4 separate regions of the Homo sapiens genome follow, and all the other regions are linked to region 1. Evidence: fine-mapped expression QTL. A gene starts in region 1. Each other region holds a variant in brackets. All regions are shown on one strand. Distances are from middle to middle.

What was found. PIP is the estimated chance that this variant, and not a neighbour inherited with it, causes the effect.
Region 2: its variant is fine-mapped to the expression of PLD1 in lung (TOPMed, PIP above 0.99). The same link has a PIP of 0.9 or more in whole blood.
Region 3: its variant is fine-mapped to the expression of PLD1 in tibial artery (GTEx, PIP above 0.99).
Region 4: its variant is fine-mapped to the expression of PLD1 in whole blood (TOPMed, PIP above 0.99).

What each region holds. Positions count from the first base shown.
Region 1 is chr3:171,809,232-171,811,849 of GRCh38, reverse strand. It overlaps PLD1 (phospholipase D1), which reads left to right and starts at 1,367. Exons shown (of 27, transcript NM_002662.5): 1 at 1,367-1,451.
Region 2 is chr3:171,787,412-171,790,029 of GRCh38, reverse strand. All of the region lies in intron 1 of PLD1 (phospholipase D1), which reads left to right. Among named protein-coding and RNA genes, the nearest start is that of PLD1, 22 kb to the left of the region's middle. The variant G/A (reference allele first, on the strand shown) is at 1,122.
Region 3 is chr3:171,769,651-171,772,268 of GRCh38, reverse strand. All of the region lies in intron 1 of PLD1 (phospholipase D1), which reads left to right. Among named protein-coding and RNA genes, the nearest start is that of PLD1, 40 kb to the left of the region's middle. The variant C/A (reference allele first, on the strand shown) is at 1,450.
Region 4 is chr3:171,976,965-171,979,582 of GRCh38, reverse strand. The region is part of intron 3 of LOC105374217 (a long non-coding RNA gene); the gene reads right to left. Among named protein-coding and RNA genes, the nearest start is that of FNDC3B, 61 kb to the left of the region's middle. The variant C/T (reference allele first, on the strand shown) is at 1,455.

The DNA of each region.
Region 1 (2,618 bases):
TAAAGACAAGCTTGTAAGAATGCAGTTACGTGTGTGCACAAGACTTATCAGACCATCTGTGACTAATAAAGCTTGAGAAAGAGGGGAGGAGAGAGGGTATTCTGCCTTCCAGTAACATGCTTGTCTGAAACTTACTAAACTCCTCTTAGGCAATACTCTGCTCAGAGAGTCATGTGTTTAATTGTAAAAATCTGTCAGTATCATAGGATTCAAAAGACATCAATCATTTATGTCAACAAGGAAAGAGTGAGGGCTGTGTGACTCTTCTATCATTAGGAAAAGATGTGCTCAAGAGACAAAAATGTGGTCTAAGGAGGGCTGAGCAACTGTAGGTTACAGGAAAACTGAGTTCCAGACTATAATTTGGCCCCCCTCCCCTAATTTGGACTGGTATATTATATTTTTCATTTCATGCAATGCCATGTGTGCAGTAAGACATTATGTAACTTGGTCAGTCGCAGTTGTGTAATATCCACTAAATGCTTTAAAGTGGCTGACGTTATTAGCAGTTTGGTGCATGGGGAGGCCATTGCTTCCCCTGGCTTTGGCGGGATGCAATATCGTGTAATGAGGTTGGAACTGGCCTATATTCAAAATTACATTCCCAAAGGGCTGCTATTCAAGCCACATGACAACTGGTTCTCTTTTTCTTAAGACTTTATTCTAAGTGGACTGAAAACAGCAAAATTGCCGTGTTTGAACGGTTCCATAGGTGGAATGGGTCTTTTCCCTGTTTTGCTCCCAATTTATTATTTTATGCTAAGATTTCTGAATTATAACCAGTTTTAGAGACATCGGGACACAAATTCCCGTCCCCCTCCATCTAAGCTGTGTGACCTCGGGCTGGTTCTGAGCCTTCATTTCCTTACCTGTAAATTGGCGATAACACTTCCCTAAGGAGGTGCAAGAAGGCTTATAAAGACTCCAGCAAAGCTCCAGTCTCTTAATTATGTCACCTCAGGCAAGTTATTTAGCCGTTTGATTTGCTGATTCCTTACTTATAAGTTGGACCAGTTGTGGCTACTATCCGCAGTAGTCGAAGAATAGATATCATAGGCAAAGCTCCGGGAAAGGTGGCTGGTCCTTGGCGGCTCGAGAGGACCTGATAATGGTCCTAATAGCGAGCATTCCCTAGGGTGATGCGGTCGAGTTATGAAACTTTGGGAAAAGAGAACAAGGAACGCGGGCGATCAGAGGCCCAGTCGCGAGACCTGCCCCGCTGGGGCCTCCAGCCGGCACCGCGACGCCCCGGGACCTGGCACCGCCTCGCTCCACCCCTGCGAATCCGGGGCGAATCCGGGCGGAGAGTTCCTGCCGGCCGCGCAGCGCAGAGCCCCCTCCGGCCCGCCCTCTCTCCCTCCCTCCCGCTGAGCTCCAGCTGTGCCAGAGGCACCCGAGCCCTGAGAGTCCGCCGCCAACGCGCAGGTGCTAGCGGCCCCTTCGCCCTGCAGGTAGGAGCCGCGCCGAGACCCGGATCACCGGGCGCCCGTGGGAGCCGGGTTTCCACTGCCCTCGCCCTCCGTCCCTCCTCCGCCCAACCTGGGCAGCTGGCCGCTCCCCGCCCAACTTGGACGGGATTTCAGCGAGTGAGTCGGCGGCGGACTCCCTAGCGATCCCCAAGGGCCTCCCTCGCACGCCTTCGGGTGGAATTCCTGCAGGGTGAAAGCTGACAACTCTGGCACGCACTTTTGCCGCGCGGGCGGCTGCCTGGAGCGCAGAGCCGCGCAGGCTCAGGCTGAAGCCCAGGCGTCCTCTGCAGGATGCACCGCCTCGCCGCCACAGGGCTTCGGGTGCAGTGTGTGTGGTGTCCCCAGGTCATCCGGGCGCCCTTGGTTCGGGTGCGCGGTGGCATGACTGGGCTGGTGGGGGCGATGGGACCGGCATCCCGTACCAACCAGGAAGTGCCGCGTCCCAAGGCTTCGAGCCCAGCCCGCAGAGCACGGTCCTGGGGGTGTGATCACAGCTGCTGACCGCGGCTCCCGCCGTGTGATGTGACCACTCGGAGGTGGGGCGAGGGGGCCGGGGGCCAGCAGCAGGGAGTGTGTAAAAGGTCTTCTTCCTCACAATACGATTGAAGGTGTTTGGGACGTAGGGCTCAGATCCAGGAGTGCCGTCCTCCAAGCCTTCCATAGGATTTTGTGACGCCCTTGAGAACCGCCCTTGTAGACTCAGTCCTGAACTACCGCCACGCCTGTATTTGCTCCTCCTCATCTCGGATTATTGCTTTCTTTACTTCCTCTGTGAAGCACTAAATACTAGTAGCTTTTTAAGAACAGACCACAACAGTTTCTTCGTTTGACCATTACTAAGTCTGCCTCCAAAATGGGGAGTTCCGTTAACTTTATCAGCCAGCCCTGCCAATTTTAGTTAAGATAAGCCTTCGTGGGCCTCCAAAGGCCTCTGAGAGACTAGGTACCCAGAGACCTCTGAGGTATGTTAAATGGTTTAGTTCGTGGTGGTGCAATGAAAACTTAAAGAAGGAAAGGAATCTGCAATTTGAACTGTTAACAGACCCCACATTTACACACTGCCTATTTGAATAAGAATCTCTTTCAGTATTAAATGTTTTGTGACACACAAATGAATTTGTACACAGTCTTTTAGCTTGAATTTGTAGA
Region 2 (2,618 bases), 22 kb after region 1:
ACTAGGTAAAGGCATGTGTGTACATGCATGCTGCAAAATGTTGCTGTCTCCTTTCTTTTCCCCACCTCTTAGGAGAGAATATCCTTTGACCCTACGTGGAAGCCTACAAGAAGGGGAATTCTGGGCAATGTGGTTCAGCCCAGCCACATCACATACTATTATTTAGTAGTCATGAAGAGAGAGACATAGGTAAAAACAGCAGTTAGTATTTCTTCATTCTGATATCTGGCAGCAAGTGAGTGATGCTACCATTATCGGCTAAAATCAGGAACTGGTATTAATGCATTTTGTTTTGTTTTGTTTTCTGCTTTATTCTCCTCTGTCATAGACAGTGAAGAGTAAGTGAAGAATTTGAGGGTCATCAGCCATTGTGAACTCATCAAAGTTAGTAGCACTTAAAATTTGCTTTTAAAATGAATGGAAAGATGTCCAAGTTTTCAATAGCACAAATATTTTTTTCTCATTTGTACCTTTTTTTTGTCTTTTGTATACAGATATTCCCACTCTGGCCACTGCCCAAAGGGGCTCTTATCTGAGGAATACTGCTGACTTCGTGTACCTAGTTTTACAGAGCCATCTTTCTGAAGCATAAATTAGATTACATTATTCTACAGCTTAAATCCCTCCATGAACTTCCCATCACCCAAGAGTGGATCTGAAACGCCTTAGAGTGTCATTCAAGACCCTTCTGTATGTGGCTGCCATGCATTTTTTTCAACTTTATTTCCAGCCTTGCAATGTACATACATCCATCTCTGTCCCACGCCCTCTGCAGGGCTTTTTGGTTCCAGAACGTGCCATGTGCTTTTCTCCTTTGGAGCTCTTTGAATAGGATGCCCTTCCTCCCTTGTCTGCCTGTAGATAGAAAAATCCTGTGCATTGGTGAGTTGGCCCTGACCACCATTTTCTTAGCATGCTGAATTACTTCTGTTCCCCTCTGTGTTTGCACAGCTTTGTTTGTGCACAGTAGACTTTTGGCTGGGCCATGTAGACTGCCTCCTCCATGAGTTTGCCAGCTTTTTGAGGACAATGTCTGTTTTATTCATCCTCGAATTCTCAGTGCCTAGCAGAGTGCATAGCACAGGGTAGTTATGCAATACATATTGGAGTAAAGGAATACA[G/A]TTCAAAAAAACAGTCTCATTAACAGATGCAAACCAACTCCTCTCATGACGCAGAGAATCTAAGCTCAAACAAATTACCAGAGTTGGCAGTTGAAGTACTATATATAGACAGAACTTAATAAATGCTTTTCTTTGTCTTAAGCCTTTGATGACAGTGATGTGTTTTTATGAACGTAGATAACCACAAGCAGATGTGTCAAAGCTCTTTTGTCCAGGAATAAACTGAGTTTCGTCATCATCTTGACAGTACTTTCCTGGATGAGTGTTCAGGAAACATGAAAAGTTTTTAAACAATTCAACAAATGTGTAATAAAAGTTTGTTACCTTGTTTTATTTGTTGTTATATTGTCTCTTGGCTTGAGTTTTTATTTGGGAAGCTAATAGAGAGACGGGATATTAGAAAACCAGAGGCAAACTGCTTGGTTTATTGAAGCACTAACTGAATGAATGCAGGTATACGAGTAATCCAGGAATCCCATGCATTAAGGAAAAATTTATTTCTATCACCTCTGTATTGTTGTTACCTTGTGAACCTGGCTTGGTTTTTTCAGCAGTTGGTAAACTGATAAGCCTGTTTCTCACTCTGTCATTCATCTCATCAGTTTACCAGCCCAGAAATACTCCTTTCAGTCTTTACAAAAAAAAAAAAAAAAAAAAAGAAGTGCAGATGCACTCACAAACACAAAAGTTAATTTATTATTATTTTTTTTTTTTTGAGATGGATTTTTGCTCTTGTCACAAGGCTGGAGTGCAATGACGCGATCTCAGCTCACAGCAACCTCAACCTCCCGGGCTCAAGTGATTCTCTGGAGCAGCTGGGATTACAGGCGTGTACCACCATGCCCAGCTAATTTTTGTATTTTTAGTAGAAATGGGGTTTCACCATGTTGGCCAGGCTGGTCTCAAACTCCTGATCCCAGGTGATCCACCAGCCTCAGCCTCCCAAAGTGCTGGGAGTATAGGCATGAGCCACTGCTGCACCCGGCTGAATTTTTTTCTTGAGGCTGACAATCATACAATTTTTTTTTTCTTACAAAATATTTTTCTAGTTTTTTTTTTCTTAAAAAAAACCAAGTTGGTTCTAATAATATCTAAATTTCATTAAATTACCAGGGAAAAAATATTTTCTTTTCCTAAATGAGAATTCAGTGATAATATGCTTGCTGCTCCATAGAAGGTGGCTGTTCTTTAACTTGTATCAACCTTCCTTGTTTGTACCATGCCCCCAACACACATACACATACCACACCATACCATGAATATTAACAAGGGAAAAATGGCCTGAATTTTATTTTCTGGGTATGATGACATTCAAATGAGTTATAAAATATGCAAATGTATTTTAGATTCCTTTCTTGGTGCACAAATCCATAACATTTTTCTCCTAGGTTGATAATATGGTCATGAAGTTCTTGGGTGCTGCATTTTGTACAACCAGCTCTTGCAATGTGAGAGAACCATCATCCACTTGGGGGCACCCAGGTACTTAATGAAAAA
Region 3 (2,618 bases), 40 kb after region 1:
ATAAGTCTCATTTAAACAAAATACAAATCATGGCAACAAGCCATTAGAATTAAAACTGTTCTTGGAGTTGAAAACTAGGGGAAAATAAGTATACTGTGAACACATTGTGTTAAAAAGCTGATGTTCTAACAATATGCTAGAACATTACTGACTCTGTTTTAAGATCTAACTGCTTTAAGGAATTGATTGACTACATTTTTCTAGAATGAAACATAAATTTCTTATTTTGAAATCTTAGTGAGTGGTATTAAGTTCCATTTTAAAAGGCAGCTTAAAGATCCATGTTAAAAGACGTGTCTTAGCTTATACATCCATTCTAAATGTAGGTGGTGAAACTGAATTATAAGAATGTTTTTAAGATTTATAGACACTAAGTCAGAATCAGAAGTTAGAAGGTTCTTTGACAAAATTTCCTATTGAACTTATGTTAATCGTTGGATTTGATGAGGTTTTTAAGCTTATTCAATGTTATCTGAAAATAGTAATACTATCTACATTTGATTCTCAGAAATGATAACTTCATATGTCCCTCTTATGCAATGTGAAATTACAGTGCTATCTGTTCCATAACTGCCACACAACTTGAACAATATAAAAGTCATTTCATGGCCCTAATGGAGGGCAGACTGTATCCCCTTGCTTAAAATTAATCATTCACTTTATTGCAGTGTCTGAGGGGAGAGAAGGGAGTGAGAGTTCTCTTTGTTTAAGTTTGTGTTATGGTTTTCTTGGGCAGCAAGTACAAAAGTGCAGCCTGAAGCTGTAGCTCATTCTGTATGTGGGTTTTATTTCTCACAGCAGTCCGGTGTCTCTTTAACATATGGGGAGTGGTTTCAAGTTCATTACTAAAGCTTATAGGCTAAAGTGCTTTGTGGGCTTGGCTATGACTTAAGTTGCCTTGAGGGAGTCAGCCAAAACTGGGCTTGGGAACAGGAAGGCTTTGCCCGTTTATTTGGATTCTCAGGGTAGTCGATTTTGCCACCTCTTGGCTATCAGCTGCCTTGGAGATTGGTTTCATAGTAAGGATTCTTTCTTTAAGGTGATATGGAGCAACTGCTTTCACAGGGGCACCAGGTTAGTAAATAACATTTTGCACTTTCTGCTGCGTGTGTCAGATTTTCTTTCTGAGCTCACGGTGTGATGATAGGACAGACTGGGTTGCTGCGTTCTTTTAGAAAATAATGTGAGTTCGTTTATCCTGCAGAGGTTTAGGGGGTTATGTTTCTCCTTATAATATATGCATTTTTTGACCATATTAAATACAACTGGAAGCCAAGTGGAAATGACATATTAGTATCTGTGTTGGATTTGCAGTCCAGAGGTCTTGTTAGTAAATATCAGCCCTGCCCCCGCCCCCTTTTTTTTTTTTTTTTTTTTTTTGAGATAGGGTTTTGCTCTGTCACCAAGGCTGGAGTGCAGTTGAATGATCATGGCTCACTGTAGTCTCAA[C/A]CTCTTGGGCTCAAGCGATCCTCCCACCTCAACCTCCTGAATAGCTGGGATTACAGGTGCATGCCACCGCACCCAGCTAATTTTTTTTTTTATACTTTTTTATAGAGACCAGGTTTTGCCATGTTGCCCAGGCTGGTCTCCAACCCCAGGGCTCAAGCGATTTGCCTGCCTTGTCCTCCCAAAGTGCTGGGATTACAGGCGTGAGCCACCTTGCCTAGCCTAGTTCCTTTCTTATAATTGCTTTCTTTGTGTCGTCGCACTAGACCTTCTAGGTATAAATATGATTTTATACACAGTTGATTTTATTTTTTGAAACGTTAAGTAGTGGAGTGTTGGGCCCCAGTTGGGGTTGTCCTCCCTCACCCCACTGGTGCGTGCTTGTCTGATGCACGGTTTTTCTTCAGGCCTACTCCTTGGAGTTTCAGTGAACCAGAATATCATTTTAATTTTTCTCTTTGAAAAGTCTGGCACTTTTCTGGAATGCCTCAAAATACTGGCATAAGAATTGATTCAGGCAGAATGTACAGGTGGATTAAGCCCAATTGAATTTTGTCTTCAGTTTTGCTGTTTTTATTCTCAAGTGATTCTTCAGAATACGAGATTACCCGAGGATTAAAGAACAGCTGTAAAAATGGAGTGTGACTTGTAAAACATAAAAGTATAGTTAATAGTAATTAAGAAATTAAGTCAATATAATTAAGCACAGAGAAAGACATTGTCTTCCTTAATCTCGTTAATTTAAAGATCTAAAGAGCAATTCTGCCTTTATTAATTTGCCACCAAAGCAATCTGGCATGAAATTGTTCTATAGGAGTAGTTCAATTTGGTGTTTTAAAGTTTGCAACACTTTATGAAATATAGTTTCTCTTGCTTTCATGTTACTTTAAGGATGCTTTAGTTCAGGGTAATGTACTAGTGTTTTAAATATGCTAATATGCTTCTGTTATTGCCATTTTATTCTCCTTTTTTCCCCACTGCGAAATACAGTGTATTAGAAAGGGTCTGTTCTTTCATGTTCTTCTCTGCTTAAAAAAAATTGAGGGGGAAGGGAGACAGAAATAGGTACTTAAAAAAGATCTCTGAGGTGATATGCTAAACTTTAAGGATCCCTTTCCCCATCAGTGCTAAGTTGAAGTTACAATGTTATGGCTGCATGCCATTTCGGGATT
Region 4 (2,618 bases), 170 kb before region 1:
GTTTAAAGCAGACACTTGGGTTAATTTGTACATTTTGGGTAAATATGCAGTGTTTCTGAGTTCACTCCCTTTCCAGGTCTTCTCACCAACATTGTATCTGGCTATAGATGGAATCCGCGCGGTACTGGAGGTCGGGCAGGGAGAGGGGTCACTAGTCCTTGGATTATCAGATTAAAATAGGCCCTTGATGGTCTCCAGGATAATGTCTCTTTTCCCTCTCAGTTATAGGGAACCCTGCTGATATCTGCTACTGACGTTCATGGTTGTGAAACTTATGCTCATTCTCTTGATTCCACCAGGACCTTAGGCTGTTGCTGGTAGTGCAGGTCCTTTAGTTGCGGCAAAAGCTGACAGAGTTGGGAAAGTTTATTCTAACTCCATGCCTCGGTGGCCCTATGGCAGGTTCACTGGCTCTCTACTCAGCCATCCCTAACAAGACTATGTGGGGACTCATGAGTCCCTTCTACTTCACATGGGAGACACGAGAGACCTTATGGGCACTTTTCCAACCTTCTTTCCACCTTCATCTGTTCCTCAGCTACTTCTAAGCAGCTTGGACAGTTCCATACTAAAGCTCTGGTTCCTCTAAAGGACTTGAATTTATTTCAGTGTCTATCCGAAGAAGTTAGGAAAGGCTCCCTGCTCTGGAAAAACCTCCAAACATATCTGATTATCTCCATCTACACACTTGATTTGATCCAAAAGGTGGGCAGAGAGAATGCTAACTTGTATAGGTCTTGGTATGTGTCGAATTGTGTTCCCTAAAAAGATATATTGAAGTCCTATATTATCTATTGAACCCTTAGTATCTCAGAATGTAATGTTATCTGGAAATAGGATCATTGGAGATGTTGTTAGTTAAGATGAGGTCATACTGGAATAGTTTGGGCCTTTAATCCAATATGACTGGTGCCTTTATAAGAAGATGAAAGATGACCTGTTAAGGCAGAGTCACAGAGAGAGACCATTGCGTGACAACACAGGCAGAAATTGGAGCGATGCAGCGGCAAGCCAAGAAATGCAAAGGCTCGATGGCCATTATTAGAGGCTAGGAAGAGTCAAGGAAGGATTGCAGCTAGAGTCTCAGAGGGAGCACGTTCCTGCTGACACCTTGATTTCAGACTTCTAGCCTATGGAACTGTGCAAGAATAAATTTCTGTTGTTTTAAGCCACCCAGTTTGTGGTACTTTGTTATGGCAGCTTTAGGAAACTAATACAGTTCCCTTATGAAAATTAGAAAGTGAGATCTTTCAGAAAGATATCCTTGGACAAGGGCTGCCAATCTTGGTAAGTGAAACAAGGCTTGGATACCCACCCTCACTTGACTCCTTGAATAAACACTGCACAACCAAGTACAGTGGCCCTGGAATCAGAAGCTAAGACCCAAATATCTGAATGCTTCTTTTCTTCTACTTCCCTTATCTTTTTATTTCCTCCTCAAAGAGTTTGTACTT[C/T]CCCTTTCTCTCTAGGTAGACATGAACTTCTGTTACATCATATCCTGAGTTACTGCCATGGTTCATGTTAGAGCTCTGTGGACTGAGTCAATTGTGGCTGGCTATTAAGACAGTCTTGCTACGAATTAAAGATAGATAGATAGATAGATAGATAGATAGATAGATAGATAGATAGACAGACATTAAACTTAGCCATGACTATTTTCTTTATCTCAGTTATCGATTGCTACATAACAAATTGCCACAAAACTTAGTAACTTAAGACAACAAACATTTGTAATCTTCCACAGTTTCTGAGGGTCAGGAATCGGAGACCAGCTTGTCTGAGTGGTTCTGACTCAAGGTCTCTCCTGAGGTTTTAGTCAAGCTGTCACTCAGGGCTACAGCCTCTGAAGACTTGACTGGGACTGGAGGATTTGTTTCCAACGTCATACACATGGCTGTTGGCCGGAAGCTTCAGTTCTTCACCATTGGGCCTTTCTGTAGGGCTGGTCATGACCTGGCTTCCCCCAGAACTAGTGATCCAAGAGAGACGCAGTGACCAAGACAGGAGCTGCAATCTTGGGAGTGACATAGCATCACTTCTGCCATGTTCCACCGGTTATACGACTCTAGTACAATGTGGGAGAGACTACACAGGGTGGAATACCAGGAGGTGGGGATCATCAGCGTGGTCTTGGAGGCCATCTACCATGCTGTCCTACCAGTGTTCCTCACTGAGAGTAGCACTGAAGTTAGGGTAGGACAAATCTTTGTTGGGTAGGACTGCCCTAGGCATTGCTGGAGATTTAATGTCCCTGACCTTCACCCACTAAATGCCAGCAGCATTCCACAGACCTGTGACAATCATAAGTGACCGTGAACATTTCCCAGATGGGTGGTATTCACCCCCACCTGACAGCCTATCTGCTATTTGAGTCAGAAGGACTTAGGCTTTGGAAGTTAATATAAATGTAAACATATCAATTTATTATTTTCAAAAATATTACAACCATTACACTGGCATCTTCTCATAGGGTTTGAAGTAATTAAGGGATTTCCAGTCCTATAAGACAGGCCTATAGTTTGAAAGAGCACTGAACTCGGAGTCATAAAATGTACACTTAGTCTCACTTCTCCCTTTTGGTAGCTGACAGCCGGGAGCAAGTTATAAAACTCTCTGAG